Regions from separate parts of the Homo sapiens genome. Here regions 2 and 3 are each linked to region 1. The links come from fine-mapping of genetic effects on gene expression. A gene starts in region 1. Each other region holds a variant in brackets. All regions are shown on one strand. Distances are between the middles of the regions. Region 1 holds the start of RRAS2 (RAS related 2). Region 2 overlaps COPB1 (coat protein complex I subunit beta 1). Region 3 has its middle 26 kb from the start of CALCA.

Region 1 (4,143 bases):
TTTTGTGGGTCAAGTATTCAATAAGGGTCGGGAGTGATGGCTCATGCCTGTAATCCCAGTACATTTTTTTTTTTTGAGACGGCTCTGTCGCCCAGGCGGGAGTGCAGTGGTGTGATCTCGTGATCTCACGATCTTGGCTCACTGTAACTTCCGCTTCCAGCGTTCAAGCAATTCTCCCACCTCAGCCTCCGGAGTGGCTGGGACTATAGGCGTGTACCACGCCCAGCTAATTTTTGTAATTTTTTGTAGAGACGGGTTTTGGCATGTTGGCCAGGCTGGTCTGGAACTCCTGGGCTCAAGCGAGCAATCCGCCTCCCTCGGCCTCCCGAAGTGTTGGGATTACAGGCGTGAGCCACTACAATTTTATTTTGCTCATGATTTTGTGGGTCAAATATTCAAGAAGGGCCGGGAGTGATGGTTCATGCCTGTAATCCCAGCACTTTTTTTTTTTTTTTTTGAGCCCGCATTGTCGCCCAGGCGTGGGTGCAGTGGCGTGAACTTGGCTCACTGTCACTTCCGCGTCCCAGGCTCAAGTGATCCTCCCACCTCAGCCTCCGGAGTAGCGGAGAGTACAAGTGCACGCCACCACTCCGGACTAATTTTTGTATTTTTAGTAGAGATGCGTTTAGCCATGTTGGCCAGGTTGGTCTGGAACTCCTGGGCTCAAGCGATCCGCCCGCCTTGGCCTTCCAAAGTGCTGGGATTACAGGCATGAGCCATTGCGCCCAGCCATCCCAGCACTTTGGGAGTTCGAGACTAGCCTGGGTAACATAGAGAGACCTTGTCTCTTAAAAAAAAAAAAATTACCTGATCTTGATGGCATGTGCCTGTAGTCCCAGCTGCTAGGGAGGCTGAGGTGGAAGGATCACTTGAGTCCAGAAGTTGGAGGTTGCAGTGGGCCATGATTGTGCCACTACACTTCAGCCTGGGTGACAGAGGGATCTTGTCTCAAAAAAGAAAAAAAAAAGATTTTTAAAAAAGGAATTCAGGATGGGCTGGCCTGGATGGGTATTTTTGCTTGGGGTCTCTCACGCAGTTGCATTCAGATGCTAACAGGGGATGCCGTCATTGGAAGGCTCGATTAGGCTGAGTGTCCAAGATGTCTCACTTAGATGGCTGGCAGGTGATGCTGGTGATCTGGTGGGAGCTCAGTGGGACTTTTTTTTTTTTTTTTTAAATGGCATGTTGCTCCTGGCCATCAATCAGACTTCGACTGGCATGCCTACATGTAGCCTCTTTAGCATGGCAGTCTTATGATAGTCAAACTTCTGACTTTGTTCCTCCCGGAGTGAGAATACCAAGAGAACAGCTGCATGGCCTCTTCTGATCTAGCCTGGGAAATTAGGCAGCATCTCTTCTGCTGCATTCTACTGGTTCCAAATGAGTTACCAAGTGAAGTCCAAGAACTTGCAGTCATGTTCCAAGATTGCTGTAAATGCTTCCTGTGTAGCAGCACTGTTTTATGTGCTCATTTAATTCTTATTAAAAACCCCATGAGGCCGGGTGCAGTGACTCACACCTGTAATTCCAGCACTTTGGGAGGCCGAGGCGGGAGGATTGCTTGAGGCCAGGAGTTCAACCCCTCGCACTCACACTCCTCATATCCAATTACTGCACATTTGTCACACATAAACATAGCCACTATGACACTGTACTGACACATACAAAATCTGTCACATTCCGTCTTGCCCATGCAAGCTCAATCACTGACTTATTCTCCATGCTCAGCCACTGTCCCATTCTTCACACTGTCACAACCACCAGCCCATCACACACTCAATTACTGTGACACAGCTCTAATCCTCAATCACTGTCACATACTGTTTTTCACACAAATATGGTCACCATCTGTACTCTTAAAGCAGGGTATGTACTCTCCTATAAAATTGAGTTAATATGCCAACAGCCCTATTTTTCGCACACGCCGTCACATATTGTATTTTTCATCCACACAATCCCTTACATAGACAATTAGGGTGACACACTCTTTCTGCCTTCGTCCCACTCCCAACTGACACCCACTCCCACACTCTCACGCACTCGCTCACTGGCTAGGGATTAGAGCGGTGTGTCCGTGGGGGTCTGAAGCCCGGGTTACCTCCCGAACCTCAGCCCCAAGCGGCGCGGCCCCGCCCCTCCCCGCCCCCTCATGCATATGCAGCACCTCAGCCTGGCAGCCCGGCCCCCAGACGGCCATTTGTGGCGGCGCTGGAGGCTGCGTTCGGCAGGCGCTGCGGAGACGCGTAGAGGAGCGCGCCCCCCGGCCGCTGCCGCCCCTGGCCCGTGCCGTCACCCCGCTTCTCCGCGCCTCGGGCGGTACCCAGCCAGTCCCCAGCGCCGCGCTACCGCGCTGACCGGCCCTCCAGACGCCTCCCGGTACCCGGGACCCCAGCCCGGCCGCTCGCCCGCAGCCCGCCGGCCGCACACGTCCCCGGAGCCGGGCCTAGGGCGGGCGGCAGCGGCGGCTCGGCGCAGTCAGGCTGGGCTCTGTAGCGTCCCCATGGCCGCGGCCGGCTGGCGGGACGGCTCCGGCCAGGAGAAGTACCGGCTCGTGGTGGTCGGCGGGGGCGGCGTGGGCAAGTCGGCGCTCACCATCCAGTTCATCCAGGTACCTGGAGCGGGCCTGCCCGGGGCGCCGGAGCGGCGGCGGGCGGGGGCTGGCGCTACCTGTGGCGGGGCGGCCGCCGCGACCTCGCCCCAGAGGCGCCTCGCGGGCCCGGGCCGGGGCCAGGGGGCGGGAGGGCGCGGGGCCGACTACGCTCCTGCCCTGCGGCCGCAGCGTCGCGCTCCTGCCTCCTCCCGGGCGCGGCGTCGCGGGAGTAGGGCTTCTCAGGAATGTGGTCGGGAGGGCGGAGCTGGAAGGGTGGGAAGCACCGATCCACCTTATTGCTCTGGCCGAGGCCAGAGACCTCCGGGAGAGGCTGGGCCACCGAGCCGGGCTTTACTGCTCCGAGGGTCCGGGCGTGGGGCTGGAGCTGGAGCCCCGCGCGCTGCTTTTCCAGCCGCCTGCGGCCGCGCCTTCACCGTCGGGGCGATAGCGGTGGCAACTTGGCCGCGGCTCCGCGTGGTCTCCGGGCTTCCCCGCGCCGCCTGAGCCGGAGCTGCCCGCTTCAAGTACTGTGTATTTCTTTGTGTGTGTGTTACGCTCTTTTTATAAGTACTCTCTTAGGTAATATGTCCGGGTGGGAGTGTGTGATAATGCCCCGGGGAAATGGTGGCTTCTAGGAAGTTAAAAATGTTCTCTGATGGGGTGAGACCATTTCCTAGGAATTCCTGATGCCGTCCTGCTTCTCGCCGTGCCTAGGTGAAGTTTGGGATGGGCCGGGCTAGGATATGACCGAGTCGTGCGTTCTGTTTTCTAACCACCCTCTCCCCTACCCCCAGCCCTCTCTGGTTGCTAGAGACGGTAAGTCAGGGGTTTGTGGTAAAGAAAAGGGAGGTGGTATTCTTCCTTCTTAGAATTTGCTCTTGGGGAGAGGTTTGAGTAGTCTTTTTTGGGATTTTTAAAACACAAAGCCCCGATGTCTTTCTGCTTTTGTCAACCTAAAAGGTGTGGCATATGCTGGGAGAGAACGAAGGTACCCTGTTATAACAGGAAACAAGGATATTTTTCACAGTATCTAGAGTATGAACGGTGAAATATTTTTGTCTGGTTTCCTTTTCACCCATTTGTCATTAATTGGGATACCTGAATAGCTTATTTCACTTAGTGTTTATAGTGACATTAAAATATTGAGTACTGTAACAAATGTGATTGTCACCTTTCACATTGAGTAAATGAGCAATAATTGCTGCTATAATATTCCCTGGATTACTGCTGCTAAAACCTTTGAATCCAGGAAGAAAGGATGTTTTATGTAATGAGCATTTACAGTATGCTTATTAGTGGGTTAAAAAAATCACTGAGTAAGGGGTGAGATTGGTTTAAGTTTAGCAGGCTACAGAATCAGGGATGCTGTCAGGTTGCTATTTCCCTAGGGCGCAGAGAGATTGTACGTATCTAATGGCAAAGCAAAACAATTTATAGCTAACCCTTTGGGGACTAGTCTGATGGCTGAGGGAGGGTGGGGGTGAGGGGATAAGTGGAGGAGAAGTCTAGGAGTGGGAGAATAATCTTGGGTTACAATATTGGTAGTGTTATTT
Region 2 (4,143 bases), 99 kb before region 1:
GGAGGATCACTTGAACATGGGAGGTTGAGGCTGCAGTGAGCTGAAATGACGCACTGCACTCTAGCCTGGGTGACAGAGTGAGACCCTGTCTCAAAAAAAAAAAGAAATATTCTATATGCTTCATATTGAATCTCTGTGAAGTTATCTCTATTGGGAAGTACTGATACCAACCTACAGCTTGTTGGATTTTATAGATGTTATTTAGTTTCTTGGTGTCTACTCTTTCCAACCTAAACAGTTGGAACAAGTTTTTAATATGACATACTGGTGATTCACAGCTTTCTCATAGTAAGATTTATGATCTCCTTGACTTTTTTTTCCTCTCTACAGGTGACAGTTAACACCAACATGGTTGATTTAAATGACTACTTACAGCACATATTAAAGTCAACCAATATGAAATGCCTGACTCCAGAAAAGGTAAAATTTGACTAGGAAATTCAGAAATCTGATGGAATGGTAGAGTAGGTTCCTGGCCTTCCTGTATTTCCTCTAGCACATTTTTGTTATTCAATATGCAGTACCATTCTAGGCTATCTAAAAGATGTTATCCCATAGAATGTTGGAATCTGCTTACCTCTTTCTATTGGACTATACCATCCTACTTTTTCCTAGTGCAGTGACCCAACTGAATAGTCAGATTAATTTTTTTTTTATTTTCTTTTCAATCTTCTCCCCCATTCAGCTAGAGGCACATTCTAAAGTAGTTTATGCTGCACATGGTGGTTCATTCCTGTGATCCTAGCACTTTGAGAGGCTGAGGCGGGCAGATCACTTGAGGTCAGGAGTTTGAGACCAGCCTGGCCAATATGGCGAAACCCCATCTCTACTAAAAATACAAAAATTACCCAGGTGTGGTGGCACGTGCCTGTAATCCCAGCTACTTGGGAGGTTGAGGCAGGAGAATCACCTGAACCCCAGGGGGTGGAGGTTGCAGTGAGCCGAGATCACACCACTGCATTCCAGCGTGGGTGACAGAGTGAAACTCTGTCTCAAAAAGATAAATAAAATCGTTTATTTGTAATACTGGATTAGAAAATGTCCATGAGCTCTTCCGTGGGCTCTGATTGTTGGTTAAAATATATGTGCTCAAATACAGAATCGTTGTTATACTGTGACTTTTTGCTATGTTTGTGTATGTATGAAAAAAACGAGAGAGAAAGAAAAATGAAGCTGGAGCTCTAAGGAACTTTTTTCTTTATGTAAAATTTCTATAATGTTATAATATTCATTTTATAAATAAAATAATGTCTGCTACCAAACAAGTAGGTTTTAATTTATATATTAGTTTATTCAGCATATACTGAGTCCAACAAAAGTAGTCTCTTCCTTCATGGCGCTTAAGGTCTGATATGGGAGGCAGTCAAGCAAGTTAAGTAAACAGAATATATAAATACAAATCGGATTAAGAACTATTTATTTAACATCAGATTTATTGAGGTATAATACACAGTAAAATTCACACTTTTTACATGTATAGTTGAGTTTTGACAAACTCATAAGATTATGTAACCACCACCCTGTATGTAAGTACTGTTTTAAGTGATAAATAACCAATGGGGCTGGGCGTGGTGGCTCACACCTGCAGTCCCAGCATTTTGGGAGGCCGAGGCGGGTGGATCACTTGAGGTCAGGAGTTCAAGACCAGCCTGGCCAACATGGTGAAACCCTGTCTCTACTAAAATTACAAAAATTAGCCAGGTGTGGTGGCGAATGCCTGTAATCCCAGCTACTTGGGAGGCTGAGGCAGGAGAATCGCCTGAACCTGGGAGGAAGGTTGCAGTGAGCCGAGATCACGCCACTGCACTCCAGCTCCAAGCTGGACAACAGAGTGAGACTCTGTCTCAAAAAAAAAAAAAAAAAAGTCACCTATGCTGTTTGGTTTTTGCCTCTATGTAGGTATCTGGTAAAGTAATGAATTTATCACAAATTTTTTCCAGGCCCTTTCTGGTTACTGTGGCTTTATGGCAGCCAACCTTTATGCTCGTTCCATATTTGGTGAAGATGCACTTGCAAATGTCAGCATTGAGAAGCCAATTCACCAGGGACCAGATGCTGCTGTTACCGGCCATATAAGAATTCGTGCAAAGAGCCAGGTAACAGTTCCTTTTTTTTTGAGAGTATCTCTGGACTGACAAAGGGGGGAGGAATTTATGACTTTATTATTTCTATATGTAGTATCTTTTTAGCATTAGATGCATATACACATACAATAATAATATACTCTGAATAGAAGTATAACTTTTCTCATTAAAATTTCTCACCTTTTGGGCCCCTCATTCTGGGATATTTGCCTAAAACCAGATTGATTCCTATGGGGTGTTTGTGAAATGGGTTCTCTAGAATTTTTTGAAAGCCAAGGTGTAAATCTAGTGACTAATTAGCTGGGTGTTGTAGCGCACACCCGGTAATCCCAGCTACTCGGGAGGCTGAGGCAGGAGAATTGCTTGAACCCGGGAGGTGGAGGTTGCAGTGAGCTGAGATTGTGCCATTTCACTCCAACCTGGGTGACAGAATGAGACTTCGTCTCAAAAAAAAAAAAAAAAAAAAAAA[T/AAT]CTGGTGACGGCTTGAAAAATCTAGCACTGAAAGGTAATTACCAGTAAAGTTTGGTAAGTCTGTTTGGTATGTCCTTGATTTTATTGTTGATAATGGTGTCATTGAATTGAATTGGGGCTTAATAATATGGAATAACCTACTGATTGTACATAGTTTAAATAATTATAAATATCTTAATTTTTCTTTACAGGGAATGGCCTTAAGTCTTGGAGATAAAATCAACTTGTCACAGAAGAAAACTAGTATATAAAAATAAACAAAAAGTCCTTGAAGCTTTACAGTTAATTTAGGTATGGGCTTACTGGACTCCAACATCTTTTGTACTCTTTCATGCTTATATAGAATCTGAGTTCATGCTGAATACTTTTCAGCCAATAATTTATAGCCTTTCCCTTAAATCAAGATTGAGTTTAAAATTATAGTTTGTCTTTTGTCTTAACAGTTCTGAATGCTGTCCTCAAAGTATATAATGTTTCATGTACCAAGACCCTTTTCACAGTACAATAAACAGATCTATTCATAAATTTTTGTTATTTTATAAATAAATGATTACATAATTTTAGTTATATGGCAATGGATTTCTTTTAGTTGGGTTATAAATTTCTATTATAAATTTAAATTACTGAGTTGTGAATATATGCAGCTTTATTAAGAGAATTTACAAATTCAATGATATAAAATAAGGTAGGCCTTGATTCACTTGGTTGTTTTTTACTTATTTAATATTCCAACATTGCTATCTCTAAAAATGCATTATCATGTTTTGAAGGGATTTGCTCTTGAATTTAGCTCCAGGGAGAAAGTATCAAAATAACTTTTTTTTTTTTTTTTGAGATGGAGTCTGGCTCTGTCACCCAGGCTGGAGTGCAGTGGCGTGATCTTGGCTCACTGCAAGCTCCACCTCCCGGGTTTACACCATTCTCCTGCCTCAGCCTCCCAAGTAGCTGGGACTACAGGTGCCCGCCACCACGCCTGGCTAATTTTTTGTATTTTTAGTAGAGACGGGCTTTCACCATGTTGGCCAGGATGGTCTCGATCTCCTGACCTCGTGATCCGCCCGCCTCAGCCTCCCGGAGTGTTGGGATTACAGGCGTGAGCCACCGCACCCGGCCCAAAATAACTTGAGAAAACAGATCGCTCTGCAGTTTAAAGAAGTATTATGTACCCGAACTGAAATAGATATACTGTTCTTAATTATCCTGAATCATAATGAAGAGTAGATAATCCAAAATAGATTTTTTAATCATTCACATTTAGTTTGGGGTGTTCTATGTTTGTTAGGAATAAAACTGGTTCTAACCAATTACTGAAGCTGGTACTGGGAGGATTCAACTAGAGAGGATTCAAAAAGCTGCCTTTTTCTCTGTTGCCTCCGTGCCTTACTCACATTTAGTTTAGGGTGTTCTATGTTTGTTAGGAATAAAACTGGTTCTAACCAATTACTGAAGCTGGTACTGGGAGGATTCAACTAGAGAGGATTCAAAAAGCTGCCTTTTTCTCTGTTGCCTCTGTGCCTTACTCACTCGTCTCCTTTTCCTCACTTCACACTAGGACTGGGTACCATCACACTGCAGTATAATTCCAAATGC
Region 3 (4,143 bases), 640 kb before region 1:
TTGAACAAGTGGAATTTATCCCAGATATGCAAAGTTTGTTTAATATTTCAAATCAATCAATGCAATTCAACAAAATAACATTAAAAAAATAAAAATAGAACATCTTAATAGGTGTAGAAAATACATTTGACATAGTCAAATTTATGGTAAAAAGTCTCAGTTTTTATAGAATAGAAGGAATTTGATCAAAACAATCTATAAATACCCTGAAGTTGACATCACATTTACTTGTGAATAAATGAATGCTTTCCCCCAAAGATTGTAAACAAAGCAAAAATGTTTACAACCATCATGTTTATTTAACATTGTACTGGATGTCAAAGTCAATGCAATAAGATAAGAAAAATAAACACAAGTTATACATATTGGAGAGAAAGATATAAAACTGCTTTCATTCACAGATGGTGATACAATGTAAGTACCAAATTTGGAGAAATCTACAAAAAAAAAACCTGTGAGAAATAGTAATAAATCAAAATGTAAAGGACCTACAATAGCCAAAACCATTTTGAAAAAGAATAAATCAGGAGAACTCACACTACTTGTTTTCAAGACTTAATGTAAACTACAGTAATTAAGACAGTGTGGTAATGGAATAAGGATAAATATACAGATCAATGCAACAGAAGAGTTCAGAAATAGAAATATATGCATGTGGTCAACTGATTTTGACAAAAGTTCCAAGCCAATTCAATGAGAAGAGGATAATCTTTTTAACAAATGGTACTGCAACAACTGAATATTCATGTAAGATTAAAAAAAAAAAGAAATCTTGATCCCACACCATACCAAAACATTAACTTGAAAAGGACCATAGACCTAAGCATAAAAGCTAAAACTATAAAACTTAGAGAAGAAAGCGCAGGAGAAAATCTTTGTGACCCTGGAGTTGGTAAGGATTTCTTTACATAGGAAACAAAAAGCATGAAACATTGGACTGCATAAAACTAAAACCTCCTGCTTTTTAAAGAAATGCCACAGGCTGGGAGAAAATATTCATAATACATACATCTGACAAAAACTGATATCTAAATATATATCAGATATGTATAAGTCTCACAATTTATAAGAACTCTTATGACTCAATGTTAGAAGACATCCACTCAGTTAAAAGACAGGCGGAAGGTTTTGACAAACATTCCACAAAAGAAGATACACAAATGGTCAATACACACATCAAAAGATGCTAAGATTATTAGTCATCAGGAAAATGCAAATCAAAACCACAGTGAGATACAAATACACCACTAGTAGAATGGCTAAAAATTTTAAAAGCTGACAATGCTAAGTGTTGAGGAGAATGTGGAACAAGTGGAATTGTCATAAATAATTGACGGGAATGTAAATTGTTACAATCATTTTGGTAAATGGTTTGGCAGCTTATAAAATTAAACATATGCTTATCATGTAATACAGCAATGACACTTCTAGGTATTTACCCAAGAAAAATAAAAACATATTTCCACAAAACAATATGTACAAGATTGTTCACAGATTTTTTTTTATGAAAGACAAAAACTACAAACAGCCAAAATGTCCATCAAGTGAATAAACACAATGTGGTACATTCATACAATGAACTATTACTCAGAAGTAAAAAGAAACAAACTACTGATATACACAACATGGATAGGTTCCAAAAAGAATGCAGATAAAAGAGTATATAATGTATGGTTACGATTATTGGAAACTCTAGAAAACTAATCTAATCTACAATCACAGCAGATCAGTGGAAGTATGGGTGAGGAAAAGGGTGATTGGCTGGGAAGGGGAAGAAGGGAAACTTTTGGGGTGATAAAAATATTCTACATCTTAAATATGGTGGTGATTACATGTGTATACACATTTGTCAAAATTAATCAAACTGTGAGTGCTCTTAAAATGGGTGTATCTGATAGTATATAAATTGTAACTTGGAAAAAATTGCAAGGTAACATATAATATCTGATTCCCAGAATCATACTCCTGAAATAATGTGATAC[A/G]TTTTATGCAAGGCTTTGTTTTAAGTTTCATTCAAATTTTGTGTTAATTCATTCCTGTTTTCCTACTGTAAAAAGTACTATATGCTCTGACAAAATAAAATAATTTTATGACTAAGAAAAATGAGAAGGTATGAGAAAGTATTTTTATAGCAGGGAAAATATTCTTACTGTCTAAAGAAGACATATGCACTAAAAAATGCAAAGTACAGCTTTAATTCATGATAAATTGTATGATCCTGTTATTAAATATTTACTTACAATTCAGCAGTTCCTTAAGCTTATTTTATTCTATTGAATTCAAATATAATTAATGAAGTACATTTAAAAGGCATGTATAGCATGAAACTTAATTATAAAACTATTCTTATTTATCTACTTGCCTACCACCTATGTATCAGTGTTTTTTGTCTGATTTTGTATAGGTAAATGTATGCTTGGAATCTTTCTTTTTTTTATTACATTTTAAGTTCTGGGGTACATGTGCAGAACGTGCAGTTTTGTTACATAGGTATACACATGCTATGGTGGTTTGCTGCACCCATCAACCTGTCAAATACATTAGGTATTTCTCCTAATGCTATCCCTCCCCTAGCCCTTCACCCCTCAATAGGCCCTGGTGTGTGATGTTCCCGTCCCTGTGTCCATGTGTTCTCATTGTTCAACTCCCACTTATGAGTGAGAACATGCGGTGTTTGGTTTTGTATTCTTGTTTTGGTTTGCTGAGAATGATAGTTTCCAGCTTCATCCATGTCCCTGCAAAGGACATGAACTCATCCTTTTTATGGCTGCATAGTATTCCATAGTGTATATGTGCCACATTTTCTTTATCCAGTCTATCATTGATGGACATTTGGGTTGGATCCAAGTATTTGCTATTGTGAATAGTGCCATGATAAACATACATGTGCATGTGTCTTTATAGTAGAATGATTCATAATCCTTTGGGTATATACCCAATAATGGGATTGCTGGGTCAAATGGTATTTCTAGTTCTAGATCCTTGAGGAATTGCCACACTGTCTTCCACAATGGTTGAACTAATTTACCTTCCCACCAACAGTGTAAAAGTGTTCCTATTTCTCCACATCCTCTCCAGCATCTGTTGTTTCCTGACTTTTTAATGATCACCATTCTAACTGGCATGAGATGGTATTTCATTGTGGTTTTGATTTGCATTTCTCTAATGACCAGTGATGATGAGTCTTTTTGCATATGTTTCTTGGCTGCATAAATGTCTTCTTTTGAGAAGTGTATGTTAATATCCTTTGCCCACTTTTTGATGGGGTTGTTTTTTCTTGTAAATTTGTTTTAAGTTCTTTGTAGATTCTGGATATTAGCCCTTTGTCAGATAGATAGAGTGCAAAAATTTTCTCCCATTCTGTAGGTTGCATGTTCACTCCGATGATAGTTTCTTTTGCTGCACAGAAGCTCTTTCGTTTAATTAGATCCCATTTGTCAATTTTGGCTTTTGTTCCCATTGCTTTTGGTGTTTTGGACATGAAGTCTTTGCTCATGCTTATGTGCTGAATGGTATTGCCTAGGTTTTCTTCTAGGATTTTTATGGTTTTAGGTCTTTCGTTTAAGTCTTTAATCCAACTTCAGTTAATTTTTGTATAAGGTGTAAGGAACAGTCCAGTTTCAATTTTCTGCATATGGCTAGCCAGTTTTTCCAACACCATTTATTAAACAGAGAATCCTTTCCCTATTGCTTGTTTGTATGAGGTTTGTCAAAGATCAGATGGTTGTAGATGTGTGGTGTTACTTCTGAGGCCTCTGTTCTGTTCCATTGGTCTGTATATCTGTGTTGGTACCAGTACCATGCTATTTTGGTTACTGTAGCCTTGTAATATAGTTTGAAGTCAGGTAGCGCAATGCCTCCAGCTTTGTTCTTTTTGCTTAGGATAGTCTTGGCTATGCGGGCTGTTTTCTGGTTCCATATGAAGTTTAAAGTAGTTTTTTCCAATTCTGTGAAGAAAGTCAATGGGAGCTTGATGGGGATACCATTGAATCAATAAATTACTTTGGGCAGTATGGCCATTTTCACGATACTGATTCTTCCTATCCAAGAGCATGAAATGTTTTTCCATTTGTTTGTGACCTCTCTTATTTCCTTGAGCAGTGGTTTGTAGTTCTCCTTGAAGAGGTCCTTCACATCCCTTGT

The links. PIP is the estimated chance that this variant, and not a neighbour inherited with it, causes the effect.
Region 2: its variant is the best candidate, but not a certain one, in a credible set for the expression of RRAS2 in whole blood (INTERVAL, PIP 0.59).
Region 3: its variant is the best candidate, but not a certain one, in a credible set for the expression of RRAS2 in lung (GTEx, PIP 0.87).

Annotation. Positions count from the first base shown.
Region 1 is chr11:14,357,228-14,361,370 of GRCh38, reverse strand. It overlaps RRAS2 (RAS related 2), which reads left to right and starts at 2,188. Exons shown (of 6, transcript NM_012250.6): 1 at 2,188-2,608. The coding sequence starts at 2,501. RefSeq lists silencers at 2,089-2,588, 2,659-2,858, 2,899-3,018 and an enhancer at 3,259-3,358.
Region 2 is chr11:14,456,485-14,460,627 of GRCh38, reverse strand. It overlaps COPB1 (coat protein complex I subunit beta 1), which reads left to right. Exons shown (of 22, transcript NM_001144061.2): 20 at 331-420; 21 at 1,941-2,096; 22 at 2,745-3,116. The coding sequence ends at 2,804. Among named protein-coding and RNA genes, the nearest start is that of COPB1, 41 kb to the left of the region's middle. The variant T/AAT (reference allele first, on the strand shown) is at 2,554.
Region 3 is chr11:14,996,602-15,000,744 of GRCh38, reverse strand. No RefSeq gene overlaps it. Among named protein-coding and RNA genes, the nearest start is that of CALCA, 26 kb to the right of the region's middle. The variant A/G (reference allele first, on the strand shown) is at 1,983.